4 separate regions of the Homo sapiens genome follow, and all the other regions are linked to region 3. The links come from fine-mapping of genetic effects on gene expression. A gene starts in region 3. Each other region holds a variant in brackets. All regions are shown on one strand. Distances are between the middles of the regions. Region 1 overlaps NPHP4 (nephrocystin 4). Region 2 overlaps NPHP4 (nephrocystin 4). Region 3 holds the start of NPHP4 (nephrocystin 4). Region 4 overlaps NPHP4 (nephrocystin 4).

Evidence for each region. PIP is the estimated chance that this variant, and not a neighbour inherited with it, causes the effect. A credible set is the group of variants that fine-mapping cannot tell apart.
Region 1: its variant is the best candidate, but not a certain one, in a credible set for the expression of NPHP4 in blood mononuclear cells (TOPMed, PIP 0.50).
Region 2: its variant is the best candidate, but not a certain one, in a credible set for the expression of NPHP4 in monocytes (BLUEPRINT, PIP 0.71).
Region 4: its variant is the best candidate, but not a certain one, in a credible set for the expression of NPHP4 in skeletal muscle (GTEx, PIP 0.88).

The regions. Positions count from the first base shown.
Region 1 is chr1:5,887,984-5,895,153 of GRCh38, forward strand. It overlaps NPHP4 (nephrocystin 4), which reads right to left. Exons shown (of 30, transcript NM_015102.5): 17 at 2,885-3,045. Among named protein-coding and RNA genes, the nearest start is that of MIR4689, 29 kb to the left of the region's middle. The variant C/T (reference allele first, on the strand shown) is at 3,536.
Region 2 is chr1:5,909,119-5,916,288 of GRCh38, forward strand. It overlaps NPHP4 (nephrocystin 4), which reads right to left. Exons shown (of 30, transcript NM_015102.5): 12 at 34-95. Among named protein-coding and RNA genes, the nearest start is that of MIR4689, 50 kb to the left of the region's middle. RefSeq lists an enhancer at 1-120. The variant CA/C (reference allele first, on the strand shown) is at 4,033.
Region 3 is chr1:5,989,169-5,996,338 of GRCh38, forward strand. It overlaps NPHP4 (nephrocystin 4), which reads right to left and starts at 3,257. Exons shown (of 30, transcript NM_015102.5): 1 at 3,076-3,257. It also overlaps a transcript of KCNAB2 not described here. RefSeq lists enhancers at 1,826-2,680, 4,557-4,606 and silencers at 2,757-2,936, 3,087-3,256, 3,297-3,476, 3,557-3,806.
Region 4 is chr1:5,933,395-5,940,564 of GRCh38, forward strand. All of the region lies in intron 9 of NPHP4 (nephrocystin 4), which reads right to left. Among named protein-coding and RNA genes, the nearest start is that of NPHP4, 55 kb to the right of the region's middle. RefSeq lists an enhancer at 6,197-6,697. The variant G/C (reference allele first, on the strand shown) is at 3,806.

The DNA.
Region 1 (7,170 bases), 100 kb before region 3:
GGGTACAGGGTACAATGCCTCCCCCGTTTCCCTGGGCCAGGAAGCATGGCTGGGGTAGAGGCCCGTGGGGCCCAGGGAGGGGCCATGGGGCACGAGAGGCCCGCCGGGAGCCCTGGGCTGGGGTTTGGCCCAGTTCTGCATGCCAGGCCGAGGCTGCTCGGGGCAGGGTGGGAGCAGGAAGCCTCAGACCCAGCAGGGCCTCAGCAGGACTTTCCTGACCACGGGCTCTTCTGCTGATCAGATTCCACGGCTCAGCACTCTGCCCGAACGCCAACACTGTGAGGCATGTGGGGGATGACAACGGCCTCACGGCTGTGCCCCAGGCGTGGCTGGGACACTCTTCCCCCGTGCCCTCTCTGCTCTGGTGCTTCCTCTCACATAAGAAGCAGTGTGGGAGCAGATGAGGTTCCGGATTTTGTAATTCTCCAGTTTCTACAGCAACAAAAGTGCCTGTCTCTGGGAGTGAGACGCCAGACCTGACCCTTCCCTTGTGGGTCTGGGGGCTTCCGGTCGCCGCAGACCCTGGTCGCTTTGCCACACTCGTCTACACTGCATACGATCACTGCATAGACATCGATGATTCCGGAACCTCAGTCACTGGGAGACTGAGAAGATATGAGAAGTCTCCTTTAGGGAACAGCCAACAAATACAAGAAACCATGTCAGCTTCTCCAAGAGGCAAGGAAATGCGAATGAAAACAAGGCACCATTTTCCTCCCAAATCATTATCAAAATGGCCACTGGCGACTGGTTTAAAGGCTGACACACTGTGAAGCCAAGGACATGGGACACAGTGCCCTCTGTCTTCAGGAAGTGCAGGCCTGGCTGAGCCTTCGGGCCAAACCCCCATCTGGCTCTGCATGCCTGCGGCCCTCACGGTGGCACCATCAGAATTCTACTTCCGGGAACATGTCATTAGGGAGAAGAGGATGGTAAATAGCACAAGCCCCGGAGACAGAATTAGGCTAAGACTCTGCCCTGATGATCATCAGTGTGACCCTGGGCCTCTGTTTTCTCCACCAGAAACAAGGATAAAAACAGAACTGCCCCAGGGCTGGGCTAGGGGTCACACTGAAGGCAGCACAGGAGCCGTCCGTCCCTAGAGGAAACTCTTCTCATCGTCGTAGCAACGTGTTACGGCCAGCACCCCCAGGAAATCAACTAGAAGATGGGGGTAAAATTGAACTTCAAGAAGTCCACAGCAGTGATTAGCAGAAGGAAAAGCCACTGTAGTGACCCGCAACAGCAAGAGCTCAAACAAGATGAAAGCTGGCCCCGCCTGCAGAAAGTAAGTCCACCAAAGGCTAACCGGAGCAACCTAACTCTCCCAGGATCTGGAGTCCAGAGGATTCTCTCTGATCATCTCAGTTTTTCACGTTTTCTACCTAAGTTTTAAAGTTACAAGATTTTATTTTAGAAAAGTGAAGCTTTAAATTTAATTTATTCAAGTCTATGTCAACAAGCGTAACGGCACTTGTTTAAGGGGCTCTTCGTGTAGGGGGAGATCAAATGGCTTCCGTCTCCAGGTGGCACAGCAAAGAGGGGGCACAAGGCTCGGCTGGGCACGACAGGGGAGCCACTGCCACCCCACACATGCCCAGCGGGACCCGGCTCTGCCTCCCACACCGCCTGCCTCCTTTACGCCTCCCCACCATGCAGAGCCTGCTGGGGCTGAGGCCTGTGCTAGAGATGCTGTGGTGTCGACACACAGTCCTGCCCTGGGGACATCAAAGCCAGCATGGGAGACGGACAAGCAAGGGCCACGATGACCCTGTGGGGCCCTTGCCATGACCCCAACAGGAACAGAGGCCCAGGGTGAGGCATGAGAAGAGCAGCCAAGCCCTGCGGAGTCCCTGCCACCTGCAGACCCCACCCTGAACGTTCTGTGCACAGCCCACCACCCTGGGGGGCATCCCCCTCCTCTAGAAGTCACAGGGAGCAGGGATGGAGCCTGGATCAGTCGGTCACACGGGGAGCCAAGAGCAGACCATGCCTCAGAGGAAGAGCAGCTGGAAAAACTCCCATACCCCATCCCCCCACCCCGAGAGCACAGCGCAGCTGAAGGAGCAGAGGAGCCGTGCTTCTCAGGGGTCAGCAGCTGCTGGAGAGGACAGGAAGCCCCGGGGGTTCAGCCGTGTCAGGAATCCAGGAGGAAAGCAGCTATGCGGCACTCAAGAAAAGTGGGGAAATCTCAGAGACTCAGGGGCTGCAATAATGACGCCACATCCTCTCCCAGCTCCGTCCCGTGGCCTGAGAGAAGTCTCAGGACACCATGGTAGCGTGTGAAACTGGCCCCAGTCCTTGGCCCAAGAGTTGTCATGGGGTCCCCTTCATACAATGGAGAAGGCTTGGGAAGAATTCCAGGGAAGACGAGTGAAAGAATCCATGGATTTAGGTTTTAGTATACAAGGAGAATGGAAAAGGACAATTAGTAAAAGAGATTCTAATTTTCACCAGAATGAGAAAAGAACAACACGTCACTGACCTTAGGAATCAGGTCACACTGCACACCCCAGTCATTCGCGTATCCATTCATTCATCCTCAACCCACCTCGGATGCACCTGCCCTCACCACATTCACCACATGGGAGGAGATGAAGTGACACTGCCTGGTAGGTCAGTTTGCAGGAGAAATAGATAACTGAGTTTGATCTTAAGAGTTTCTTGAGCAAACAACTAGCATTATAGAATTCAGACAGTGAAAAATCTTTTCCTTTCAAGAAACAGAGAATGCAGCACTATTTTTAACGAGTGAACAAAGAAGGTCAAACAAGTCCTGTGCGGGATAGCGCCCGCTCCTTCCAAGCAGACAGACGCTGGAAGCGTGACTCGTCCCATGAGGGACGCAGCACCCACTGTGCCTGTCCTTCCAGAGAGCCGCTACCTTCATCTGGACGGCAGCAGATCCGATGAGCAGCAGGGAGTCTCCGTCCCAGACGTCAATCTGCAGGGTCTGCACGGCCAGGTAGCGGGCAAAGCAGCGCCGCTCACCTGGCTTCAGGAACCCAGGGCCCACCATGTACCTCAGCTGGAAGCCAGGAGACCCTGTCAAAGAGGCACCAAAGGAGGCCAAAAGTAATTGGAGTCATTCATCATCTTTACACTTGGAAGAGATTTCAGCTCTGGTCATGATTACTAATTTCTGCTTCTGTCATAGCTACAGTTAATAAACACATTAATCAAAAACATCATAAAATATTCAAATTAACAGAATGAAGAGTCATGTTCAGAAGACTACATTTCTTTCGCATAGAAACAATAAACTCCTCCCAAAATAAGATTTATGGTTTCACCAAGTCCTTGTAACAGCCTAAGATGGATGGGAACAAATGTCCTTATGAGGCTGGCTAGGGAGTTTATTATTCTGGGCGTGTAGAATTTAAGAAAAAATGTAGTCTACATCTGCTGTCAAAACTGGCATGTTCACACACACAGGCAGAGCTCAAACCGAGATCAGGCTTAGAATGATGTGTGGGACACCCAGCAGCCCCTCTCCTGGCCCTAAAGCAGGACGGCACCTGCCCCGTGGGTATCC[C/T]GGGCTCCTCCCGTGCGGTCTGCCCTGGTCATCAGGCTAAGAGATGGGAACTGGACTGCGGCCCCTGCCTTCATCTTCTTGAAGTGACATTATCATTAATTCTAAATTGACAAAAATGCCATTCAAACCATCCTTAGTTAAAATTCGAGGAACAGCAATGGTGAGAAGCATTTCAAAACAACATTATTTCTCTTTCTATCAATAATGGTGACAACATTCCCACAGCCCCCAACGAGCAGAGGAAGGAGCGAAGGTTTACTCAGCACCTCCAGTGCCAGGCCCCAAGCCAGGCTGAAATTTGGCCACAGGTCCTCTCCACCCAGGCTCCAGCCCCACAGGATGACCACAGACCACATTCCATCTGCGTTTCTCAAGACCAGAGGACAAGGAGTAAGCACAATGTGTCCGGACAGGGGACCTAGGGGGAGCGAAGAGTGCAGGGCCCAGGGTGGGCCCCAAGGGGGTGGAGCAAGGACCCACTGCTCAGGCCCGGCGCTGGCCACAGCAGGAGCTCACGGGGGCATCTTGGGGCAGAAAGGCAAATAAGGAATCTGGAGGAAGACCAAGGAGGAGCTGGTGATTAACATCACGCAAGGGCAGGCATGTCCCCAGTGTGGCACCTCAGAGGTGACCAGCCACACAGCCCCCACCCCTGCCTGGACTGTGGCATCTAGTGAGAGCTCCCAGCATGAGCGACGCAGAAGATGGGTGATTTCTGCATTTCCAACTGAGGTACCGGGATCATCCCACTGGGGCTTGTCGGACAGTGGGTGAGAGTTGGGAGGCTGGTCAGAGGAGCCTAGACCAGGATGGCCCCGTGCCTAGCATGCTCCTGCCCCCCACTCCAGGAGCTCTCAGCATGCTGTCAGCTCTGGGATCAGTGTCTCCCTGTTTTGAAACCCAGAGCTCCTTAAGGGTGGGGCCCTGCTTGTCCAGTTCTCCCAGCACTACCCTGTGCAGGGCCTCCCACATGGTGGGGGCGCAGTTATTTGTTTGCTGAGTAAGTGAATTAATGGTAGCATTGAAAGGCCCTGGCAGTGCTGGGGTATAGTGGTGACAGAATGGGGGCCGGTCCAGCGGGGCACTGGAAGGAGCTCCCCAGGAGACAAGACAGAGGGTCCCACTGGGTCGAGCTGTGTTTGGGACGCGCGTACTCTCCCCACTGCAGCCTCAGACCTCTCCCCTCCCTGTCCAGCTGAGACAAGTGGCTCCTCCGTGGCCACCCCTGAGGTCCAAGCTCCCCACAGTCCACCCTGTGTCATTTCCATCCCACTCAGAAGTCCAGGAAGCTGGCCTCCAACTGAACTAAGAAGACTCCCAGGGGCAGTGGCCCTGTCCTCCCCAAGCCCACCTCCTGCACCCCCTTCACAAACACCACGCCCCAGCCCGGCTGGAATCCTCACTGCTTCTGGGGTTGAGGAAACAGAAAACACAGTAATGGTAGAAACTAACCACTCTCCATTCAAAGGCAGATCCAGGCAACGATGAATGAGTGACAATCTAGAAGAGCAGAGTGGCCAACTCCCACGGTGGCAGGGGTGTGGGGTGCAGGGATCGACCTTAACGCAGCACCCCAGTGACAGAAAAAACAACTTTTCAAGTGTATTTGGAACATTAATAAAAACGAACCATGTATTAGGCCACTGTGGGGACCAGCCTCACAGGGTCGGTGGGTCTCTCCCCGTGTGCGGCAACGAGAGAGTGTAGAAATAAAGACACAAGACAAAGAGATAAAAGAAAAGACAGCTGGGCCCAGGGGACCACTACCACCAATGCGCAGAGACCGGTAGTGGCCCCGAATGTCTGGTTGCGCTGTTATTTATTGGATACAAAGCAAAAGGGGCAGGGTAAAGTGTGTGAGTCATCTCCAATGATAGGTAAGGTCACGCGGGTCACGTGTCCACTGGACAGGGGGACCTTTCCTGCCTGGCAGCCCAGGCAGAGAGAGAGAGGAGACAAAGAGAAAGACAGCTTACACCATTATTTCTGCATATCAGAGACTTTTAGTACTTTCACTAATTTTGCTCCTGCTATCTAGAAGGCAGAGCCAGGTGGACAGGATGGAACATGAAGGCGGACTAGGAGCGTGACCACTGAAGCACAGCATCACAGGGAGACGGTTAGGCCTCCGGATAACTGCAGGCGAGCATGACTGATGTCAGGCCCTCCACAAGAGATGGAGGAGCAGAGTCTTCTCTAAACTCCCCCGGGGAAAGAGAGACTCCCTTTCCCGGTCTGCTAAGTAGCGGGTGTTGTTCCTTGACACTTTTCGCTACCGCTAGACCATGGTCCGCCTGGCAACGGGCGTCTTCCCAGACGCTGGCATTACCTCTAGATCAAGGAGCCCTCTGGTGGCCCTGTCTGGGCATAACAGAAGGCTCACACTCTTGTCTTCTGGTCACTTCTCACTGTGTCCCCTCAGCTCCTATCTCTGTATGGCCTGGTTTTTCCTAGGTTATGACCGTAGAGCGAGGATTATTATAATATTGGAATACAGAGTAATTGCTACAAACTAATGATTAATGATACTCATATATAAACACATCTAAGATCTATATCTGGTATAACTATTCTTGTTTTATATTTTATTATACTGGAACAGCTCATGTCCTCGTTCTCTTGCCTCAGCACCTGGTTGGCTTGCCACCCACAGGCCACAAAAAACTGCACTCCATAAAGTAGAAATACTACAAATAATATTCTCTTAACATAATGCAATAAACTAGAAATTAATATGCCAGCCTGAGCAACATGGTGAAACCCTATCTCTACAAAAAACACAAAAACTGCCCAGGCATAGTGGTGCATGCCTGTAGCCCCAGCTACTCATGAGACTGAGGCCCATCACTTGAACCCAGGAGGTGCAGGTTGAAGTAAGCTGAGATCACGCCACTGCATTCCAGCCTGGGCTACAGAGCAAGACCCAGTCTCAAAAAAAAAAAAAAAGGTAAAATTTTTTAAGAAACAAATTTGCAACTTACTCATAAATAACTTTCTGTCAAAGGGAAAACACAATCAAAAAAGATTTTCTGGAAACAATAATAATAATGAAAATACTACTTATCAGTATCAACAATCTTAAGGCAGTAATCACAGGAAAATTCATAGCCTTGAATCCTGGTATATCCACACAAACAAAAGAATTAAGATAAATGAATTAAGCAGCTCAAAAAAAAAATAGGAAGATAGTAAAGAATACCAAAAATCAAGGAGAAATGAGGGGACGGTAAAGATAAACACAAAATTTAATCAATTAGAAAACAAAACAATAGCAAAACCCATATGACATAAACTTTAAAATTCTTCAGAAAGACACACAGTAGAAATGAACAGATGGAAAGGCAGCCTTGTCTTGGACCGTCATCTCCTCGCTCTTGTGGCACTGTTCACAATAGAAAAGACGTGGAACCAACCCAAATGTCCATCAATGATAGACTGGATTAAGAAGATGTGGCACATACACCCCATGGATTACTATGCAGCCATAAAAAAGGATGAGTTCATGTCCTTTGTAGGGACATGGATGAAGCTGGAAACCATCATTCTCAGCAAACTACCGCAAGGACAGAAACCAAACACCGCATGTTCTCACTCATAGGTGGGAACTGAACAAAGAGAACACATGGACACAGGAA
Region 2 (7,170 bases), 80 kb before region 3:
TTCTGAAGGAGGCCGTGGGGGGCCTGGACTTACCCCTGGTCCCACAGGTGAGTTCTGCGGGGCAGCGAGAACTCGAGGTACTGGCGCTGGCGGGCCTGGGAGGAAGCACAGTGGGGTAGGAGAGGGAATGTGTCAGCCTGTGTTGGGGGCAGTGGGCCCCTGAACCCCCACGCAGTCAGGTCTCCACAGGCCTCACCACCTTGTCTGTAACAGGGGCAGCCGCTGGTTACCGTTCAGGGGCAACAGCAGCAAGGGTGCCACCCAAAAGTGTCGCTGTCTATCTAGAGCCCTGGCATGCACCAGCAGCCAGGAGAGGGGGTACAGCTGGCCTCGTCCTCACTGTTCTTCCTGGGCCAGCAGGTCTCACAGCTTGGGGTGCTTGGAGCTCCCTAACACGCTTCTCCTCACTAGTCATCTTTGCATCTTCCCTGCCCGGAAGAGCTGGGGTCTGAGGTTGCCCCAGTCTTGCAGCTCCCTGACTCCGGCTGTTTTGTTAACCGAGAAGCTCCTGAGCAGACACTGCCAACCTGGCTTGCGGCCTCACGAACACCCACTAAGCACAAGCTGTCCGCCAGGTCCTGCTGAGGATTCTCCATGCAGGCCCGGTAACACTGGGAGGCGCACCTGGGGGAGGCAAGGCCAGCCCTTCATGGGGTCCCCCTGGAGCCAGGGACTGAGAACTGCCTTGGCCCTTTATAAGGCCACAGCTGCCTCCCAAGCATCCAGGGGCTGCCTAAAGAGCCAGCAGCCTCCTCCCAGGGCCACCTGTACCTGCCCAGCCCCGCCTCAGCCCAGCTGGCATTTGTGCTGCTTCTGCAACCCCTCCCCAGGCCACATGGACACCTCATGGCCCAGCAGACCCAGGGCTCTCAGCCCCTGCACCTCAGCAGGAGGAAGCCCCAGCATCGCTGGAGTCTCTGAAACCCACCAGGCTCCTGCCACAGCGGTGCTGGAGCGTCCATAGCCACTCGTCTCTTACGGTCATTTCACATACACTGCCATTTGCCTTTGCCCACCATGAAACCACCAAGCCAGACCCCAAGCCCATCCTGACGGGGCCACCTCTGCCCACTCAGAGGCCAGGGTGGGAGCCCTGCACACTGAGTCATCTGCCTGGCTTCCCTGAGGCCCACAGCCCAGTCTCCAGCCCATGTCCTGTCCCCACCTGGCTCATGACAGCCTCCTTCACGGTGACAGGACTCTCCACTGCAGCAGACACTACCACTCCCCATCGGACTTCCAGGATAACCCAGACCTCCGGAGAAATCAGGCTTCCCCCATGGCCCTGTCCCACCTCCCGTCACCCCCATGTGGCCCACATCTTGGGCCCAGCAGCTCGCCTTCCCTCCCTCTCCTGTGGCCTCTGCTGCCATGAAGGTTGGGCAAACGAATCTCCTATATGTCCTGGTATCCTGAATTCCTATGGCACAGAGCACAGGCCGGCACTTACGGGACCTACGGACCAAGCACACAGCACAGAGGCCTGTGACGTCAAACGCTGGGCACTCTGGATAGAGACTGCTCAGCCACTTCGTGTTCCGCTCTGAATCCCAAAAAAACAAAAACAACAAGGAAAATGCTGTCGACCAAGGAGAAACCAAATCCAGAAAGTGCCGCCCTAACACCAGAGCTGCACGACCATCGGAGCCAATCCCCGCCGTGCCTCTCCCAGCAGCTTCCAGAACCCATCCAAGGAGGTGCTTCCCCAGCTGCAGGATCTGGTGGAAACCCTGCTAAGGGCCTGTGGATGGGTGGAAGGCATTGGGGCAAGGCCAGAGGGAGCCCCCAACCCTCAGAGGATCCAACTGCCCAGCCTGGCGGGCACAGCTCCCAGTCCAACTACCTCCTGGGCAGCGCCCATTTGGCCCGCGCAGCTCCTCTGTAACCAGCCACAGTAACGTGGCTCCAAGGAGCACAAAGACTCTGGTCAGAGGAACCTGCCCTTCTATAAATGAGCTCACGTGCTCGGAGGGAGTTAGCAAATGATCTAGCAAGCTCTGCTTCCCCAGGAAAATATCATCTCACTAAAAGCAAAATGCAGATGAGGATTCTGCAGGGGCCCAGCTGTCCTCAAAGCCGATGCCTCTCCCCAGATTCCCTGAGTGCCTCTTACAGTCCATTTCAGAGCTCCGTACGGCAAACCCCTGCCCACCTCCTCCCAGAAAAAGCCTGAAAGATGACACAGCAGAGTGGTAAGTGAAGCTCCACGCCGTTCCTCCGTAAATGGGAACTCGGAAAACTCCGCAGGCTGATTTTGATAATGAGGACAAATTGCCAGAAATGGCTCCATTATCTTCAGCAGAGACAGCGGGCACTCGGGGGCCAGCCCTCCGTGCCTGTGTGCGTCCTCTTGGGGAGGAAAAGCTGGATGAAAAGTTAAACCTTCCAAGCACATCTGAACTTCTCGCATGCATTTTATTTCCCCATCGTCTCAAATTTGCATACAGTGTGGAAAGTTTTTTCAAGTAACTCTTTATATCATGACTTATGCAATTTTTTCTTCCAAGAGAGTAAACCTACCTACAAGGCCATTTAAAAAGGCCATTAAAGGTGGCCATTTAAAAAGATACCTGGTGGGAAGCCCAGACCCCCAGGGCCCAAAACTCAGATCCAACCGGTGAAGCAGAGCAGGAAGAGACACACCAAGGCCACGAAATAACTCAGTTTCGAATCTCTTTGTTTTAATGTTCGATGTGGTTATGGGTTAAGGTGCTTCCCAAACTATACTCATAGTCCTGCCCAGAGGACAGCGCGGCCGCCAGGGAGCACCCGCTGTACTCCAGGCCCCAGGAGTCTTCCAAAAACCACGGTGGAGTCTGGGAAGCCTGACTTCCGCCACATAACAGGACTTGGCTGACAAGCACCTGGGCCAGCAACTGAACCGGGAGCAGCATGCGTGTGCACAGGACACAGGTAGGAGCAGCTGCGGTGAGCAGACAGACGAGCACAAGGCTGTCTGGGGCAGCGCTGCGACAACAGCAAAACATTAGACACAATCCTGGTGCTCCTGCAAATGGAAGCTACCTCAGCAGAACCCGGCAGATCCTGCGTGGGGCAGGGGAGCAATGGGATGGGAGGAGACCAGCCGGTGTGTGCAGAACTGGGAAGGCAGCCGCGGCAAGTTAAAAAGTGACGATAGGCCGGGCACGGTGGCTCACGCCTGTAATCCCAGCACTTTGGGAGGCCGAGGCGGGTGGATCACAAGGTCAGGAGATCGAGACCATCCTGGCTAACACGGTGAAACCCCATCTCTACTAAAAATACAAAAAATTAGCCGGGTATGGTGGTGGGCACCTGTAGTCCCAGCTACTCAGGAGGCTGAGGCAGGAGAATGGCGTGAACCCGGGAGGCGGAGCTTTCGGTGAGCCGAGATCGCGCCACTGCACTCCAGCCTGGGCAACACAGTGAGACTCCGTCTCAAAAAAAAAAAAAAAAAAGAAAAAAGAAAAAAGAAAAATGAAAGAAACCCACAGTGTATACGGGTGTGCTGGCAAACTCGTGGTAACCACACCCATGAGACATGCTAGGAAACGCGTATTCCTACATTGCCCATAAAACTTAAAGTAAATTAAATGTTAGTTTAACAGTCATTATAAGACACACCTGTAGGTCCCTGATGGAGCCTGAAGTAGTAACACAGTCAGCACAGAATGGAAAGCTGAGACCTCCACGGCAAGCAGCATGACCAGGTGCCTCTCCCAACACGGAGCCCCTCCGTTCTCACCCCTGCGGCAGAGGCCTGGGCTCCCTCACTGGGAGGGGAATCAGCGTCTGGCTGAGCCACCACAGGACCCTGGTTTCAGGGAAATAACCTGGCGTTAAGAAGAAGAGCACAGAGCCTGGCCAACGTGGTGAAGCCCCGTCTCTACTAAAAATACAAAAATTAGCCAGACATGGTGGCACGCGCCTGTAATCCTAGCTACTCGGGAGGCTGAGGCAGAAGAATTGCTTGAACCCAGGAGGCGGAGGTTGCAATGAGCAGAGATCGCGCCACTGCACTCCAACCTGGGCAAAAAGAGTGAGACTCCATCT[CA/C]AAAAAAAAAAAAAAAAAAAGCACAGAGACTCAGCTCTTCCACGGCTGCTCCAAGAAGCTCGTGGCCAGCGGGGCCCTGAGATGGGGTTGCCAGCACACACCTCTGGCCCAGAGCCAGATCTGAGAAGAGCAGGAAGAGACTAAGTCACTGGTTTCCCAGGACACCAGAACCAACTGTGATCCAGAAATGGTCCACATGGATTGCTAGAGACAAAGAAAAACTTAGACTTCCCACCACGGCAGGTTTCTCCACCTCTCTGAAGATTCCTTTTCCCTGACGCTCTATCACTCTCCAATCAGTCTCCACTTGCTGAAAACCACAGTCAACAAAATCTCAAATGTCTACTTTTCTGTCAATTTAGCTTCAAGAAACTCAAAAGCCCTGCACTCAACTACAGCACAGGCCTCAGGAGGCAAGGCAGGGCCTGCACTCTGATCCCAACCCCGGGAGGCCACGCATCCCACCTGGTCACTGCCAACGTCTTCACACTGCCTCTGCACTCGCCTGGAGGGGGCCCTGCAAGAGGATGCAACCCACACACATTCCACACGCAAGAGAGACAGGCATGCCCTCAAGCCCATGGCTCTCAGCACTGTGGGTGAGTTGAACTGCAGAAGTTGTACAGTGAACAAATAATGCTCAAATATACTCACAGGGACAATATTCCCCAGAATTCCTCCTTCCTCCACCCCGAAGGAGATCATTCTATACATAACGCAGAGAACAGAAAAGAACATTGTTACCCAGAGTAATAATACCACTAACATCACAGCCCAGAACAGAGGAAGGAGCTCTCCAGCCAACCCCATGGCCGCCAGGCACGCAGCTCCCCGCAAAGTAAGTACACTGGGCTTCGCTTCTTCATCACGCACGCGGGCCAGGACATGAACAGGGATAGGGCTGGGGCAGGAGGCGGCCTCCCCACCAACAACCCTCTCTCACTTCCAGCGTCACCTCACCAGACAGATTAAAAGTACTGACTACCAGCTGGACATGGTAGCTCATGCCTATAATCCCAGCACTTTGGGAGGCCAAGGCAGGAGGACTGTTTTGAGTCCAGAAGTTCGAGATTAGCCTGGGCAACATGGCAAAATCTTATCTATACAAAAAAAAAAAAAAAAAAAAAAAAAAAAAGGCCTGGTGTGGTGGCATGCACCTGTGGTCCCAGCTACATGGGAGGCAGAAGTGGGAAGATCACTTGGGCCTGGAAGGTGGAAGCCACAGTGAGCCGTGACTACGCCATTGCACTCCAGCCTGGACAACAGAGTGAGATCTTCTCTCAAAAAAATAAAAAGTACTGACTACACAAGGGAGTCCCGGCACTGCCAGGCTGCGGTGTCCATGTCCTGACCTAGGGTTTCACTGAGCAGCTATCTGTCGCCTCAAGCCACATAACTTTTCAATATGCATGCGCATTGCCAATTAAAAAGTGAAAATAGAAGCAAGGGGAAAGGAAGGACATGTTTTCACCACCTTTACTTTCCCACGTCCATAGATTCATTTTCCAACAAACATTTTATCAGATGCCTGCGCTATGACAGGACCACAGAAAGAAATGAAGATAAGGAAACAGCTCAGTGGAGGACGGGGCTGTGGTCTTCATTGAGATGTCTTCCTAGGCTGAAGGGAGCAGGGGCCTCTCAACATCAGGACACATGCATGGAGGCCAACGTGTCCTTTCTGGAAATGTGAACGGGGTCGTGAATGCGGTCCCCACAGCACCAGTCCCCTGTGGCCCGACTGCCCCAGCAGGTGCCAGGTAGACCTCCCCCCCGCACCCTGAAACGCACCTGTCCTCCTGGGCCTAGCTGTGCTGCCAGCCTGCCACTGAGCAAACAGGGGTCAGCAGAGGGCTGGATGAGGGGTCCTAACAGAGGAAAATGCTCATTTCGCTGAGCAACTGCCCAGCTGAGCAAAGCTGCCTGCATTTACCTATGGGGTCAGCAATTCCGTGGGAGAGAGAAGTCCTGAGGGAGGAGGGAGAGGGGGCAGCACGCAGAGGCTGTTGCTTAGCAACTCATGGCAGCTGGTGGAAGGCAGGGACGGGCCAGGCCTTGGGCCTTGGGCCTTGGGCCTTGGGGGTAGACTGTGGCCCTGTTACAAACAGGGGTAAACAGATGGCCCCAAAAGGCAGGGGAAAGGAAGGACCATCGCTAGTAAAGATGCAGTCTCTGGGGTTTGAAGAAGGGTTGCAAAAAGTAGCTTCCTTTCATCAGGCCGTGAAAATAAAGGATGAGTCAGTATCTAGTGGTACTCTAGACACTAAGAATTCACATGGCAAACCCACTTGAAAGGCCTTTATTCCTAACTATTTGTAGGTAAAAAGTCATTGTTCCTAAGAGTTTGAAAACAGGAATGGGAAAATGAACAAAACCTAAGCAGAGATCAAGGGGCAACTGGATGATGAGTGAGCACAGGACTCTGTGCTGCAGGAGTCCAGATCCCAGGCAGCCCAGGACTGCAGGAGTCCAGATCGCAGGCAGCCCAGAACAGGAGCTGGTTCAGCAGGCCCAAGCCGAGTGGGGAGTTCCGTGACTTGCCAGAGCCCTGAGCTGGGGTCACCTCCAGGGTCAGTTTCAGAAGTGTCACCTCCCTTGTCAAAGCCTTGCTCTGACCCACTGTCCCACTAATTCTCCAGCAAAATGCACCCTTACCACCTGCACACGAACTTCCATTCCGTGGTTGGAGGGTGGCCAAAAAGCTGCTCCATGGCCTTAGACTCTCCCCCACCACCATGTGATTGACTGAACCACCCTCACCCAGGACAAGGGAGCTGCTGTCTGTCGGAGAGGATGTTCCAGACCAGCTAGCAGCACAGCAGGCACCACGGGGCAGGAATCTAACTCCACGTGTCCTGGGAAACACCACAATTACATGTTTGCAATGACCCCTTCTACATGGCTGTTTTCAAATCTATTAAGCAAACAAACCAAAATTCTGACACCACCAGAGGAACATTCAAAAGCAAAATATAGGTCAGGGAAATTCCAAGTTACAAAAAAATAAAGACTGAGTGCCCTCTAGCGGCTCAATGCACACTCTTCTGTGGTAAGTGATGAATGAAACTTTGCTCCCTTGCAATGTTACAGAGAAAATAAAAAGGATTATTCATAACCGAGAGCCAAAGTACCTCACT
Region 3 (7,170 bases):
GCCCACAACTGCCCACACCATGCCAGCCCAGAGCCCCAGGAGCCACCACAGGGAGAGCCGACTTTGGACTTCTGACCGGCCTAACTGGAAAAGAACAAATTTGTGCTACTTTTAAGCAACCAAGTCTGTGGGACTTTCTTACAGGAGCCACAGGAAATCATACAGCTGTCCACGACTTATAAGCAGAAGACACCTGACCAATACCAGCTCAAGGGCCATCTCCCCCAGGAGGGCTTCCCAGGTGCTCCCAGGGTCCAGGCCCCAGGCTCACATGGCCCCTGTGCTTCCCTTGGTCACATCATTCGTCACCTATCTTGTGTTGAATTGCTCGCTGGCCAAGTTCTTGAAGAAAGAAGCCTCATTCCTCCTGTGTTCTTGGTACCGTCACAACTCAGTAAATGGTCACGGAACCAAACAGAAGCTTTAGCAAAGCTACCCTCAAGCTTTTCTTTCCCACTGATGTTTTATAACATTCAGAAATGTATTCACACACAATGCAGGCCGTGATGGCCCCAGGTGGGGATTTCAGAGAGGAAGTCTCTCCTGACGCAGATGCCCATGCTCCTCACCTGCCCCAGATTTCTGACCCGGTGCCTCCTGCCCTCTCCCTGGGTGTCTGCAGGACTCAGTGCCACACTTGGCCCAAGGACACTGCTGAAGGACGTGCATACGCCAGTCGACCCTCACAGGGAGCATGAAGCATGCCGGCCCCCTGCTGTACTAGGAGGGCAGACACTAGGCGGAAGGGCATCCATTCCGAAAGCACCTGCCACCCACACGGAAGTCCTGAGGCTCGGGATGTGGAGGCAGGGCAGTCCTAGTCTGAGGGGCCACGGAGGCCGAGGTGACACCTGAGACTCTGCAGGTGGGAGCCCAAGCGCCCGCAGCAGCTCTCACTGCCATCCCAGCACCTCACAAACCTCTCCGGGTGCCCTTCCACCTGCTCCTTGCTCCTTTCCACCTCTGCTCTGGCCTCTAGGAGTCAAACCAAATGCTCCCTCCTCAGAGCGAGAGCCCCATCCCCCACCTCCGGCTGCTCCCACACAGGGCAGGTGACAGAAGAGCCACCACGCTTCACCAGGGCTGTGCTGTAGTCCTGCGAGACTGTGAGCTCCATGACACCAGGCTGGGTCTTCAGCAAAAGTCTTTTAAGGATGAAATACAAATGCCCTGGAGGAAGTGCAGAGGGGCCTTTGGGGCCAAATCAACAATAAAAGAGAAAATCGAGAAGGCTCCAGGTCTTGAACCCAAGAAAAGGGTACAGTGGGCTCTCCAGGGGAAAAAAAAAAAGAAGAAGAAGAAAATACACCCACTTTTAATGAGCCCCTGATGCAAGACAGGAACTCACATTCTATGGTTACTATTCCAACAACTCTGCCAAATGAGAATCATCATTATCGCCATCTTACAGATGAGAACACTGAGACTCAGAAAGGATAAACAGCCAATCCAAGGTCACACAGCTAGCTATTATAACTAGCTATTATAATAGTATTATAGATATAATACTGTAAGCTATTATAACTACCTCCCACTACCTCAATCAAGGAGGCCAGGAGAGGCCAAGGGAGAAGAGAGGCCCAGAGGGAAAAAGTAAGAGCACCAAAGGAACCCAGGGCTAATGCTGTCTCCTCTTTAACTTCAGGACAGATTCGCAGCCTCCCCACCTGTTTCCAACCTCCAAAATGAGAGCTGTGAAATCTCCTTGAGATCTCTGCTTCTGCTGATCTATTCAGCAACTATTTCCCGAGCACTTGTGTTCCAGTGCATAAGAAGGCTGTCAAATGTGCTGTCTTCAAGCATCTAGAAAGCCAGTGGGGGAGAAAGACAAGAAAGTGACTGTGAGCAGCAACAGGCCCCCGGGAGGGTGCAGAGGTGAGCAGGGCTGAAGGAAGATGCAGGGGGTGGGAGGCGCTGTCAGGGTCCGGGAAGCCTCCTTCCCGGAATGGAAAATGTGTAATGCCTGAGACCCAGATGCCTTGGGGAGCTTTTGGGGAAGCAGAGGTCTGATTAAGCACTGCCTGGAATTCCCTCATTCATGAGCATTCTTTCAGCACCTACCCTGCGCCCGGGAGAAACGGTCTTGAACACAGCAGACAAGCTCGCTACCCCCATAGAATGTAAAGAAACGGGGCACAAATTAGCATACAAAAAGACACAAGTGTGACCTACGGAAACTGCACAGAGGAGGTGCAACGAACGGAGCCCTGGGTTAGGACCGGGAGGCGCTGCCCACCATCAACAGAAATACTCCTCCTTTTGCCAACTACACACGCGAGAGGCTGGATTTCCTTCACAGACGTCCACCAAAGCCACACATCGCGACACACGGAGGCAGAAAGCAGCGGTCTCCTAAGAAGTTAGACACGAGGAATCTCGGGCAGCGAGGTGCCTGCAAGCCCGGGGGCGGGCGGGAGCAGCCTGCACGCGTGGGGAAGGGCACGCGGGAGCGGGTGGCGCCTTCCGGGCCGGGTCGGCCGGGAGGTTCCAAGGCAGGAAAGGGGCGCAGAAGGCCGGGACGGCGCCGGGTACAAAGCCTCGCAGGGACGCCCGAAGGCCGCAGAGCCACCGCGGGGAACTGACAGCCGGAGCCGGAGCTGGAGCCGGGGGGCGGGGAGGAGGGGCGGAGGGGCGCGGCCAGGCGGGGTCCGCGGACTCCGGCCTGGGAAGGATGCGCGCGGACTAGGGCGCGGGGAGCCAAGGCCCAGAACATCGGTACCGCGCTCCCTTCAGCCGAGGGGCTGCAGAGAGGCCAGGGGGCAGGGGGCAGGGGGCAGGGGGCAGGGGGCAAAGGGCAAGGGCAGAAAGGAACCCACGTAGCCAAACGGCACCCAGCGGCCCCGACCCCAAGTGTCCCGACGAGGGGGGACGCCTGCGACTAACGCGGGGACAGCCCCCGCCGCGCGCCACCGCCGCACCCCAGGCACCGGGCCCCCACGCAGGGACGGCGTGGACCACCCTACCCCCGAACCCCGAGGCTCTGGCCAACACTGAGGCCCCCTGTGCCTCGAGGCCGCGTCCAACCTCCCCCGCGGCGCCGGCCCACATGGTTCCGCCCGCCGCGGGCCGCGTTACCTAGGAGACCGACCCGCCGCGGCCGCGCCGGAGGCCACGGAGCCCACGCTTTTCAGAGAGTCTCCACTCGACGGACCCAGAGGCCCGGCGGCCGGTGCTCAACGGAGCCACAAGCCTGAGGACCGAGGACTGGCCGAGGGGCGCGCCCCGTCCGCTGCCACCCGCGGGAGGAGCCTCGGAAGGCGGCGCACCGCGCCGCACACTCAGTCCAAGAACCCGCCTCGCGTCACTGTCGCCGTCAGGGCCGCGGAGCCAATCAGAGCCCAAGTCGAGGGCTGCGCTTTGCGAGCGCCAGCCAATCGGTGCGGCGGCGGGCCCATCCTGATTTGCATGTCCGACGACCCCTCAACCAATGGTAATGTGACTGGCGTGAACAATAGCCAATCAGAAGCTGGAAGAGGCGTGGCCCCGGGCGTCCCACGAGGTGAAGATGCTGCTGGCGGAACCTGCAGGAGCTAGCGGGATTCGGGGGCGCTAAAGTCGCAGGGGCAGGGCGGGAAGGAAGATCCGGCGCGGGGCACAGGATCCGGAGCTGGAGCCCCCAGGTGAGTACCGGGGAGACCCCGGCGGGGCGCGCTTTCCACCAAGCTGCTCCGGGACGGCGGCGGCGGGTATCCGCGAGGCCCGCGCTGCGGCAGGCGCCGCGGTCCCGTCTCCATCTCTTCTTCCCCGGCCCTGCGTCCCTGCCTCCGCCGCTGTCTCACCTCCTCTCCAGCCTCCTCACCTCCTTCTCCATCGTCTCCCTTCCCCCATCCCTTTCTGTCTTTCCTTCCCTGTCCTCCCGCCCGCCCGACCCTTCAGCTCGCATCCCTGACCCCTGCCCCTGCCGCCGTCCCTCTTCCCGGTGCACCTCTTCCCCATCTCTGCCCGCTCCGGTCCTAGCAGCCTCGCCCTCCCCTTTCCTCCATCCTCCTCTCATCCCCTCTCCCGGCCTCTGCGCAGCCCCACCGGGGCGCTGCTGTTCCCGGTCCTCCCCATCTCTCCTCCTGATCGCTTCTCAAGGCTCATCCGTCGTTCTCGCTGCCTGTCCCTGTGTCGCTCCGGTCCCTTTCCCCACCCTCCCATTCTGCCCCCAGCCCCTCCGACCTCTCCCCGCGGGCACGCTCTCACCACCTTACCCTGCTCCCCAAGACTGTGACCCTGCTTCCTGCACCAGTTCCTCGGGCTGTTTACAGCACACACACCGCCACTTCTGACCCTGAGCCCCTACTCCTATCTTAAGCTTCTCCCTCCTGCCAGGCCTTGGCACAAAGCACTTCCGCACCTCCCTACCTGCTGCTGCTCCCAGGATGCAAAGACCCCACTGCTGCACCGCGTCCTGCGGCATTAGCAGCAGCCGGGGTACCTGCCCACCTTCCCACCCCGCCAACCAGCCGCATCCTGGTGTCCCTCCTCCTGGCATTTGTCCTGGGGGCTCTTACAGGGACTGTGCTTTGCCCGCAGCATCCCGGGGTGCTCCAGGTGGAAAGCCCCTTAGCACCTTTCCTCCCTGGCCACCGTCTCCTTCCCTCCCCACCCCCACTTTCCTGCTCAGCCTCACTTTGTGATTCAGCATTTTTGGGGTTGGTAACTTTCTTGCTTCCTGTCGTGATAGGGACCTGGCTACGGAGCTGAAGGCAGGGGTCTTGACCCTGCGGTTAGCAGGGCCACCTTAGGAACCAGACCTGAGCTGCCTGGTTGGGAGGGGGCTGAGGAGCTGGGGACCGCCACTGGGGGTTGTCTTTTCCTCCCTTTCATTTGTCTGCCCTGTGTTGAACTGTGTCCAAGGGGAGATGACATAAGTAATAGCTCTTGGGGAAGTGGGCTATTAGCATTTATGGAAATTAATACATCCACATCCGAGGAGCAAGAACACCAAGTTCAGGCCACAGCTGTCCCACTGTCTGTCGTTTCAGGATTTTTTCTTTCTCTGCAACTTCTCCTCCCCGACAAAAACCCCAGCCTCACCCCTCCCCTTTCCCCCAGTGCCAAGAGTAAGCTCCTGCTCTGCTAAGGAAGCCGCATTCAGGCCCCGCGTTGCAGGTTGCAGGGTTTGGGGACCTACGTGTGGAGAGTCACATCTGCCCACCTGATTCTCGCCTGGCGGCCGTGTCTGCTGCAGAGCCCTGTGCAGCTCCTGGCCCTGTGCTCTCGCAGTGTGGGGCCCTAAGAGTGCACTTGGTCCTCCAGGTCCTGTCATTGTCTCCACGGCCACACTCGGCCTCAGTGGCACTGACAGTGTTCGGGCCGCAGCACATCCCTCGAGAGCAGCATGGTAGGGGCTTCCCTGTTGACACCCAGGGCCATTTTTTTTTTCCCTGCGCCAGTCAGCAAATGCTTTGTAGGTGCTAGTCAACACCTGGGGGCTGAGCCAGGCACTGGAGTTGGGGGGTGTCGTGAAAAAGTGTGAAACCCTTTTCGTGTGTTTCTTGGTTGAGAACCGTCTTGGGTCTGGATTTGGAGCCTGGATGGGAAGCAGTGTGCACAGAAGCCATTGCACCCGGGAGGTGGGACGTGGGCCATGGCGCTAGAGAGCTGGAAAGGCCGAGGGTGCCATGGGCTGGCCAGCTAGAGAAGGCTTCCTCGCTTTCATTTTTCAGTCATCTTCTAAGACCCAAATGGTTCAGGAGGAAGCGAGTGCCACACAGTTTTGATTTGGCAGTTTCCGGCCTGGGCTTGGAGGGAGGGGCCTCCCCTAGACCTTCCTGTGTGTTGGTGCTCTGCCGTGGTAACTGGGAACACATCATCTGTGTGGAAGGAGAGCCTGCTCCCTCGCGAGAACCAGGGGACCGTGCTTCTGTTTCCAGGGACTCTGGCCAGGTGCGGTATGTGTCTGGTCCTCGGCTAAGTTCTCAGTGATATTCACGCCGCCAGAGGTCCCAGAGTGAATGTTTTCCTGGCGTCCCTGAATAAGGAGGCAGGACAGTGGGCAGCTCGGGGCGGCAATTCGAGAAGGATTGATGCCAGAGGTGTCTAGGGCCATAGACCCCATGTTCCCGCCAGTCCCCCTCCCACCACCAGGAGGACTTGGGTCTTGGCACCCAGCAGCCGGTCATCCTTGCTCTCAGAGGACTAAACGGAAGGACAGGCTTCTCCAGGGTCAACAGAGGCAGTGACGGAGCTGGGTTGGACCCCCTACTTCCTACTTATTTGAGCCCAGTTCATGCCTTGGCTGTCCGAGCTGGGGGAAGCCAGCACCCCGAGGACATGACCGGCTGTCCCTTCAGAAGGCCACTTGGAGGCATTGCTGACATTCATGGGCGCAGCCAGTGCCCTTGGGTGTGTCCAGGTCACTGGAGGGGCTTTTGGGACTGGGAGGTGCCACTACCATGGAGATTTCTCAGCGACTCAGTCCTGCCTGGCATGCAGGCCCTGGTGCAAGGGTACTGTTGTTCGTGGCCTTCAAAGAGATGGCCCCATAGTTAGAGAAGAGTGAGGGCACCAGGTCCGTGGTGGGATGAAGGAAAGGAGGGACCCTCCCCACACTGGAACTACACTCATGACCTCAGTTCGCCTCCGGCACTTGTAAACAACCCTGTGAGGGAGGCTGGATAGGGAAACTGAGGCACAGAGCAGCAGTGAAACTGATCCTGGCCTCCCAGCTAGTGAGGAAACCTTGATTCTGTTCCTGCCCTGCCAGAACTCTGTGAGAGGTGCCCCCTCCGCCATCACCTGAGCTCCATCGAATGCCTGAAATCCTCACCTCTGCAGGAGTGAGTCTCCCAAGAGGCCCTGGAGGCCCAGGCCCAGACCCTGGGGGATATGGAAGCACTCCTTTGTCGTGGCGTGGGAAGCCCCACACTGCTCTTTCCTTGGTGACGGGTGACCCGCCATGTTCAGGCCCCTCCTGGTCTATCTTCGGGTGAGTCTATTAAGGGATACACCATCTCCGCTCAGCCAGTCCCGAGGAGGCAAAGGGAACAGGACCCTCTTCCCCAGGAGAGAGCACACTGGGGGAGATGGGGTGGCACACCTGGGCTTCGTCCTGTCACTGCCCACTGGCTCGAGGCTTTCCTGCCTGCCTGGGCTTGGCAGATGCGTGAGACTCCCTGTCTCATGGGCCTGAGCAGATGCTGGGCCCTCTTGTCCTCTGCCACATCCTGGGGAACTCAGATG
Region 4 (7,170 bases), 56 kb before region 3:
AACAGTGCTTTCATGTGTAAAATTCAACGAGAGCTCAGTGTAGCAAGGGGCAGGGATCATCAGTTGCATTTTATAAAAGGAACTAGGGCAGGAGGAGGACATGGCATCCACAGTGCAGACAGTAGGGCACAGATAGTCTTCAGTTACATGACCCCACCGACCCAGTCAGGACCCCTGCCCACCCATGAGTCTCCTTTTCTGGCCCAAGGTAGTGATGGCTTCCCCCTTAGAGACCAGCACTGTTTTATGAACCCCTGTTCCCATAAGGATCTTTCCATAGGTTTGTAAACACTCTGCACCTTGCCAACACCAACTCAAATCCGTCAGGAAAATACTAGGAACAGCACTTTGAATTCCTAATCAGAAATTTGGTAAAATAACGAAGAATGCACATGTATATTCAACTCAGCATTATTAGCACACATTTTCTCCACAAAGCTCCAGCTTACAATAGCACATTTCGTATCTGTAGCTTTCAGGAAATTGGGAAATCGATCGGGTCAAATTCCAGGCATTGTTCCTTCTTTCTGCTTCTCTCTGGCTGGCCAAATGGAAGGAATGAGGACACTGTGAAAACCAATCCCTTGGGTTACAACCACATTAAAGTCATTGTCACAAACACGGTTTCACGGCTTGACTGAGTAAAGAGTTTTAAAATTACCAACTTTCATCCATTTACTTAAAAAGAAGTAGGACTAAAGCTAAACCCCGGTCTTTTTTGGACCCCAAAGTCCAGCAGAGCCACCTTGTTGAAGAGGACTCCAGAGGTGATCAGCTCTGAACCAAGGCCCTGCCTGCAGATCCTGCAGGCTCCCCTGGTGGGTGGAGCACACTTAAGTCACCAGGAAGCCGATTAGCCAGAGGCCCATGGGGTACAGGCAACAGCGGGTCCGACCAGGAGCCCCAGTTAGAGCTCTTTCCACTCCTAAGATCACAGCTGCACTGATCAGTAAGTGCTGCGGAGCGCTGCCTAGACCAGAGCCACCGGAACAGCCCAGAGGAAGGAGGAGCAGCTGTCCACTTCCACCTGGGACTTCCAGCCTCTGTGTCCCATGCGCAGGAGAAACAACCCCCAAGCAGGAGGTGGTGACTGGACCATGAGCACAGTGCTCCACTTCCTACAGTGCTCCACTTGCTACGGCTTCCCCCCAGCCCTGGCTAACAGAGACAGCTGCACCCTTCAGGGGTGACAAAAGTAAAATGGGGTGGCTCCCCACTGCTCCCAGTCCCGGGCTTGGCTAAGGCAGCCAAGGGCATCCCTCTTAACACTGCTGCCTGAGGGCATGAACCCAGGCAGCATCGCAAGCGCAGCCATGGTCACAGCGAGGAGGTGGCCCGGAAGGAGGACGCGTCCCACTCTTGGTGACGAATGGACGCCCATGCCCTGCCTAGGATGGGTGGAGCACAGCATCCACCAGGAACAGAGACACCCAGAGGATCCAGGAATTTGCGCTGCCCTGGGAGCGAAGGAGGAGGCAAGACTCCAGTGGTGGTGGCCAGGGGTCCTAAGGGACTTTGCTTATTTGGCTGGACATGCCAGTGGGGAACAGCCACACCAGTGTCACTGCCCAGACTGCACTCAGGTCCCACACAGATCCCCGCATGCATGCGTGCTCTCAAGGCCTCTAAAATCCGGACACAGATGGCCCCATGGTCTCTACTGGGCTAAACCACAGCCAACTTCATATACAAGCAGATGTGAATACAGAAAAGAAAACAGTTCTTGTTTCTTCCAAGTTAGCCTCTTCCAGACTGTTCCTGCCAGATGATATCCCATCCTGTTATATCCTAATAAAAATTTAGAATCGGCATCTTGTTTCACATTAATCTCTTTTCCCATCACAATCGGACTTCAAACCATCCACTTCTGCAGAGCCCTTTGCTGCAGCTAAATTCCAGATCATGGGCCAGGTTACTGCCACATTCACGCCCCCGTCACAGGGTGAGCGGGGATTTGGGTGGTCCCTGGCAATTCAATGAGAAAACACCCACACCATGGAAGGACATAGAATCAGAAAAGTAAGAAATGGAAGCATATGACTCTAAGCCACACTTTCAACATTTGCCAAATACAAAAACAATGTCTTCCTGTTCCCCATCCAGTTAGCTGACAACAGATTATAAAACAGTGCTGAGCAACTATAGCATACCAACGACATGGTGATTATAACTCCACTGCTTTTTAAAAATCAAATTACAGCCAGGCACGGTGGCTCACGCCTGTAATCCCAGCACTTTGGGAGGTCGAGGCGGGTGGATCACCTGAGGTCAGGAGTTCAAGACCACCCTGGCTGACATGGTGAAACCCCATCTTTAGTAAAAATACAAAAATCAGCTGGGCATGGTTGTAGGCACCTGTAATCCCAGCTACTCGGGAGGCTGAGGCAGGAGAATCGCTTGAACCTAGAAGGTGGAGGTTGCAGGGAGCCAAGATCACACCACTGCACTCCAGCCTGGGCGACAGAGTGAGACTCCATCTCAACAACAAAAAAATCAAATTACTATAAATGTATTAGGAAAACTTGTCACTATAAGGATTCAACAATGTCTAGACTACTTTTGTAAACAGTTATCATTATAAAATACAGAAGTGTATTATTACAGGATCAAAAACAAAATAAAGTAAAATATGTATCTACGTTTTCATGCTATCTATACAACTTCTAATTTTCCACTTAGGGGATTCCAATATCTAATTTTCCAATTTCACAGTTCTTTTTGGTTCTCCATCAGTAGATGATCTCCTCTGTGCAAAGTATCTGTCAGTTACATAAACATGCATTTTTCCTCACTTTTCTGTTTAACAGCTTTAATAACAACAACAAAAAATCTGTGTAGCCAATTATTGATCATTCTTTCTGAGACCTCAACAGGCGAATGGGGGCCTGGTGGGAAGCCAGTCGCCATGTATTTGCCCACACTTGCTCACTGCCAGCCCACAGAGGGACCGGCAGACAGGAACTGCCCGAAAACCACCTGGCTCTGCAGAGAAGGCCAAGCACAAGCAGAGTCACAGTGAGTCTAACACGCTCCTACAGCCAGTGGATCCTAGTGCTTGAGATGACATCCACTACTTCATCATTCCTTTTCCTGCCCAACTTGGGTTTGAATTCACACAAACTGAAAAGAAAAAAAAAGCCCCAAATACACCGAATTGCTCCCATTTAGACTTTTTAAGTATAACAGCACCAAATACACAAGTACAAATACACAAAAGACAAAATACACAATACACAAAAGACAAATGAGGAATACACTTGGATTATGAGTCAGGTTTTGTTGTGGAACAGAAGTGCCACACTTGCATTTACCACGCAAAGCCGCTCACAGAAAACAGGCCCTTGGCCTCTGGAAATGCTACAAACCAGAGTCCCTGTGGCGGGCTCAATGTGTCCTCCAAAAAGATGCTCTCAGCCTAATCCCCGGAACCTGTGGCTGTGGCTTTGTTGGAAACAAGGGTCTCTGTGGATGTGATTAGTTACAGTGTTGTGGGATGAGATAATCCTTCATTATCTAGACTGGCCCTAACTCCAATGGCAAGCATCCCTGTAGGAGCAGGGGAGAGAGAGACAGACACAGAGGGAGACACAGAGAAGAGGCCACATGACGAGGGGGCGGAGAACGGAGTGATATGGCCACAGGCCAAGGACAGCTAGGAGCCCCAAAACCCACAAGAGGCAGGGAGGCCCCATCCCACAGAACCTCCGGAGGAACTCAGTCCTGCCACACCTGGGGTTTCCTCGGAAGGAGCTCGGCCCGCCACACCTGAGCTTTGCCTGAGGAGGATCTCGGCTCTGTCACACCA[G/C]GGGTTTCCTGGGGAGGAGCTGGGCCCCACCACACCTGGGGTTTCCTGGGGAGAAACTTAGCCCTACCACACCTGGGGTTTGCCAGCAGAGCAGATTGTGGACCTGTGGCCTCAGAGCTGTGAGAGCACACATTTCCGCTGCTTTGAGCTGTGGAGGGTGTGACACTTTGTTACAGAAGCCACTGGAAAGTCATACAGGCCCTTGATGGCTTCTGTCCTCAGATCAACCTGAACTTACTTAGACGAAGGTGAAAACATCACATTACTTCACGAGCTTCATTTTGTTTAGATTTTCAGTGAGACCTTTTCACTCTTGCCTAGGCACCCAGCCTCTGGCCCTGGGCCCAGTTCTGCTGGGACCTCCAGCCCCAGGAACTGGGAATGCACAGTGAAGGGGATGGCGGCCGTTCTCTGGGTAATGACAGGGTGGGGTCCCCGCCAAGCAGCGCACTCACGCTCCACTGTCTCAAGGCCTTATCCAGATAGAGAGCTGGGCCCAGGGGAACTGCCACCTCGATGGAGGTGACATGTGGCACTTGGCTGAGGACAAATTTTAAAAAGACAAACTACTGCGTCAAAACATCTCTGAATGTTCCTAGTATCACACAAATCACAGAGGACATAAAGAAAAAAGAGAGAGAAATGTAGGTCTATAATTATGCAGACGAAGGAGACAGGGAGGCCTAAGATAAGTGTGAGGAAAGCAGCTCAGGCCCTGGGCTGGGAACACGCGCAGTCACACTCACGTGGTGTGAGAGCCACAGCAGGGACAGGGCTGACCCCTCGCAGGCACCATCCACCCTGTGCACCAGCTCCCACCCTGTGAAATGACCACCATACAGGCGCAGGAAACAGAGCAACCAGCCGCACACGGCGGGTGGCACAGACCCAGGAGCATCCTTGGAGGTGGAGCCTGGTGTCCCCCAGCAGCATGACAGGTGGGGCACACAAGCGGCGGGTGGCTCCGGAACTCAGAGCTCAGGGCACGGGCTGAGGGCAAGTCCTTCCCGATGGCTCGCTCGCTGGCCGGCATTCTCCCTGAAGGACACGGAGCTCTTGGCCCTTGAGGCGAACTTCACAAGGCCAGAGAGACTGAGCCCCACCAGGTGAAGAGCTGGGGGTGGCAGGCAGCCAGGCTGGCGTTGGTGCCTCTACCTCCTGGCTGAGCAGCAGGAAGAACCAGGAGCCCAGAGGTCACAACAGCAGCACAGCCACTGCCAGCAACAGCGGAGGTTCACAAGCCAGATGCCATCAACCAGAAGCTACTCAGTCCTCAAATCGGATCCAGTACATGCAGAACTGAGTCCAAACGAGACGGACAGCAAACCCGGCAGTGGCTCCCAGACATTCCTGGGGGAAAGGAATCCTAACCACAGGCAGTTAAAGTCATCTCCTCCAACCCTCTATGACACAGGCTGTGCGCTGTCATTTAAAAGCTGAGTGAAATTTAACCCTTTTCCCATTTAGAAAAACAAAGCGCAGCTGGCTGCCAGCACTCATTTAATTTTACATAAACGTGCTCTTTGAGGCTGAAGCAAATCTGACTGATTTTCAATGTGAAAATAAAATGTAAAAACTGTTCTTGGAATTATTTCTAAACAGAACATCAGAATCGTCTGAATCATCAGAATCGGCTATTTTGGAAAAATCGGATTCATCAAACGAATCTTCGGCCAACAACTGTTAGAGAACGATGTTAACACCACGCATAGGAATGTTACATTTTCTAGAATTTGACATTTTCATTGACGGAAAATTACTGTATCTTGTATATGGAAATACCACTACTAAAAACATAATGCTATAAATAGAATGATGTCTTTTGTTTCCAAAGTCAATATACTCGAGCAATGCAAAAATAATAATAAAAGTGAGATACTTCATGGCAAAGCTGCCGCAGGATAAACATTGCAGCCACAAGTGCCCCCAGTATTCTCGGGGCAAACTGGAAAAGGGCTAACAGGCAACATTTTCATGTTATTCTACTGAGTGCAGTAATTATTTTTAAAAATATACATGAATAATGAAAAAACTGTGGTATGGTTTTAAAGAAATTTCCATAACCTGGTGAAACTCTTCACACAGGGTAATAGGTTCATAAAGCCTTGGTCCTCTGCAAAACAAGCATCAACTTGACAATGACTAAAAGAAGCAACAGCAAAACTGTCACGCATTTGGAGCCATGGCCTGGGTTGGGCCGGTGTAAAGCTCTCCGCCCTCTGGAGCAAGTCTGGGCCCCAGCGGCTGGCATGTGGGCACTGCAGGGCCTGGGTTGGGCAGGTGTGCAGCTCTCCGTCATCTGAGCCTAGTCTGAGGCCTGGTGGCTGGCACGTGGGCCCTGCAGGGCCTCTACTTCTCACCCCAGCTCCACTTCCCTCCCTGCCCTCACTGGGTCTCACAGAGCCAATGAACACTGGGGTCAGATTCAGGGCCCAGCATCCACTGCAGTGGGCACTGCCCTTCCACAAGGCCTGGCTCCAGGAAGCAACCCCCACCTCAGCCACACAGTAGGGCAACAGGAAATCCCATTCCCCCATGCCAGTGACTACACCAGGGAAGGGGCTCACGTGAGGCTGGCCCCAGGCCTGCTGTGAGACCGCGTTGTCTATGAGCTTGGATTTAAGGAACTTGGGAGCAAGAAGCTTTCTTTCATTACGGGCCACCAGCAGGGAAAAAAGTTAGCCCAACGCAGTTGACAGTCACACCCCCACCAGGACCCCAGGGCACAGAAGGAGGGAAGAGGACAACAGAGGATGAGGTGGGGCCAGCAGAGGGACAGAGAAGAGCTGCCTGCCCTGGAACAGGCAGAAAGCATCCCACGTGCAAGAAAAAGTAGGCCAGCTAGACTTAAAATCAGAACTACCGCTCATCAAAAGATAGTGTAACATTTGGGGTGCTATAATTTTAACATGTCCCCCAAAAGGCATGTGTTGGAAATTTAATCCCCAACAAACCAGGGCTGGGAGGTGGAGCCTCATGAGAGGTGGTGAGGCCATGAGGGTGGAGTGAATGGATGAATGCCATTGTCTCGGGAATGGGCCTCTTCTACAAGGACGAGTTCAGCCCCCCTTTCTCTTGCTCACCCTCTCTTTGCCCTTTCGCTAGGGAGTGACGTAACAAGAAGGCCCTCACAAGATGCTGGCACCTTGATCTTGGACTCCCCATCCTCCAGAACCATGCATGAGCCAATAAATTCTATTCACTATAAATGACCCAGTCTGTGGTATTCAGTTACAGCAGCAGAAAACAGACTCAGACAGGAGCAACCAGGGAAAGGGGACACAAATCTCCCCGCTTTACTCTTCATAACTGCAATATGAATCTACAATTACCTCAAAATACAAAGCTTAATTTTAAAGACAGCA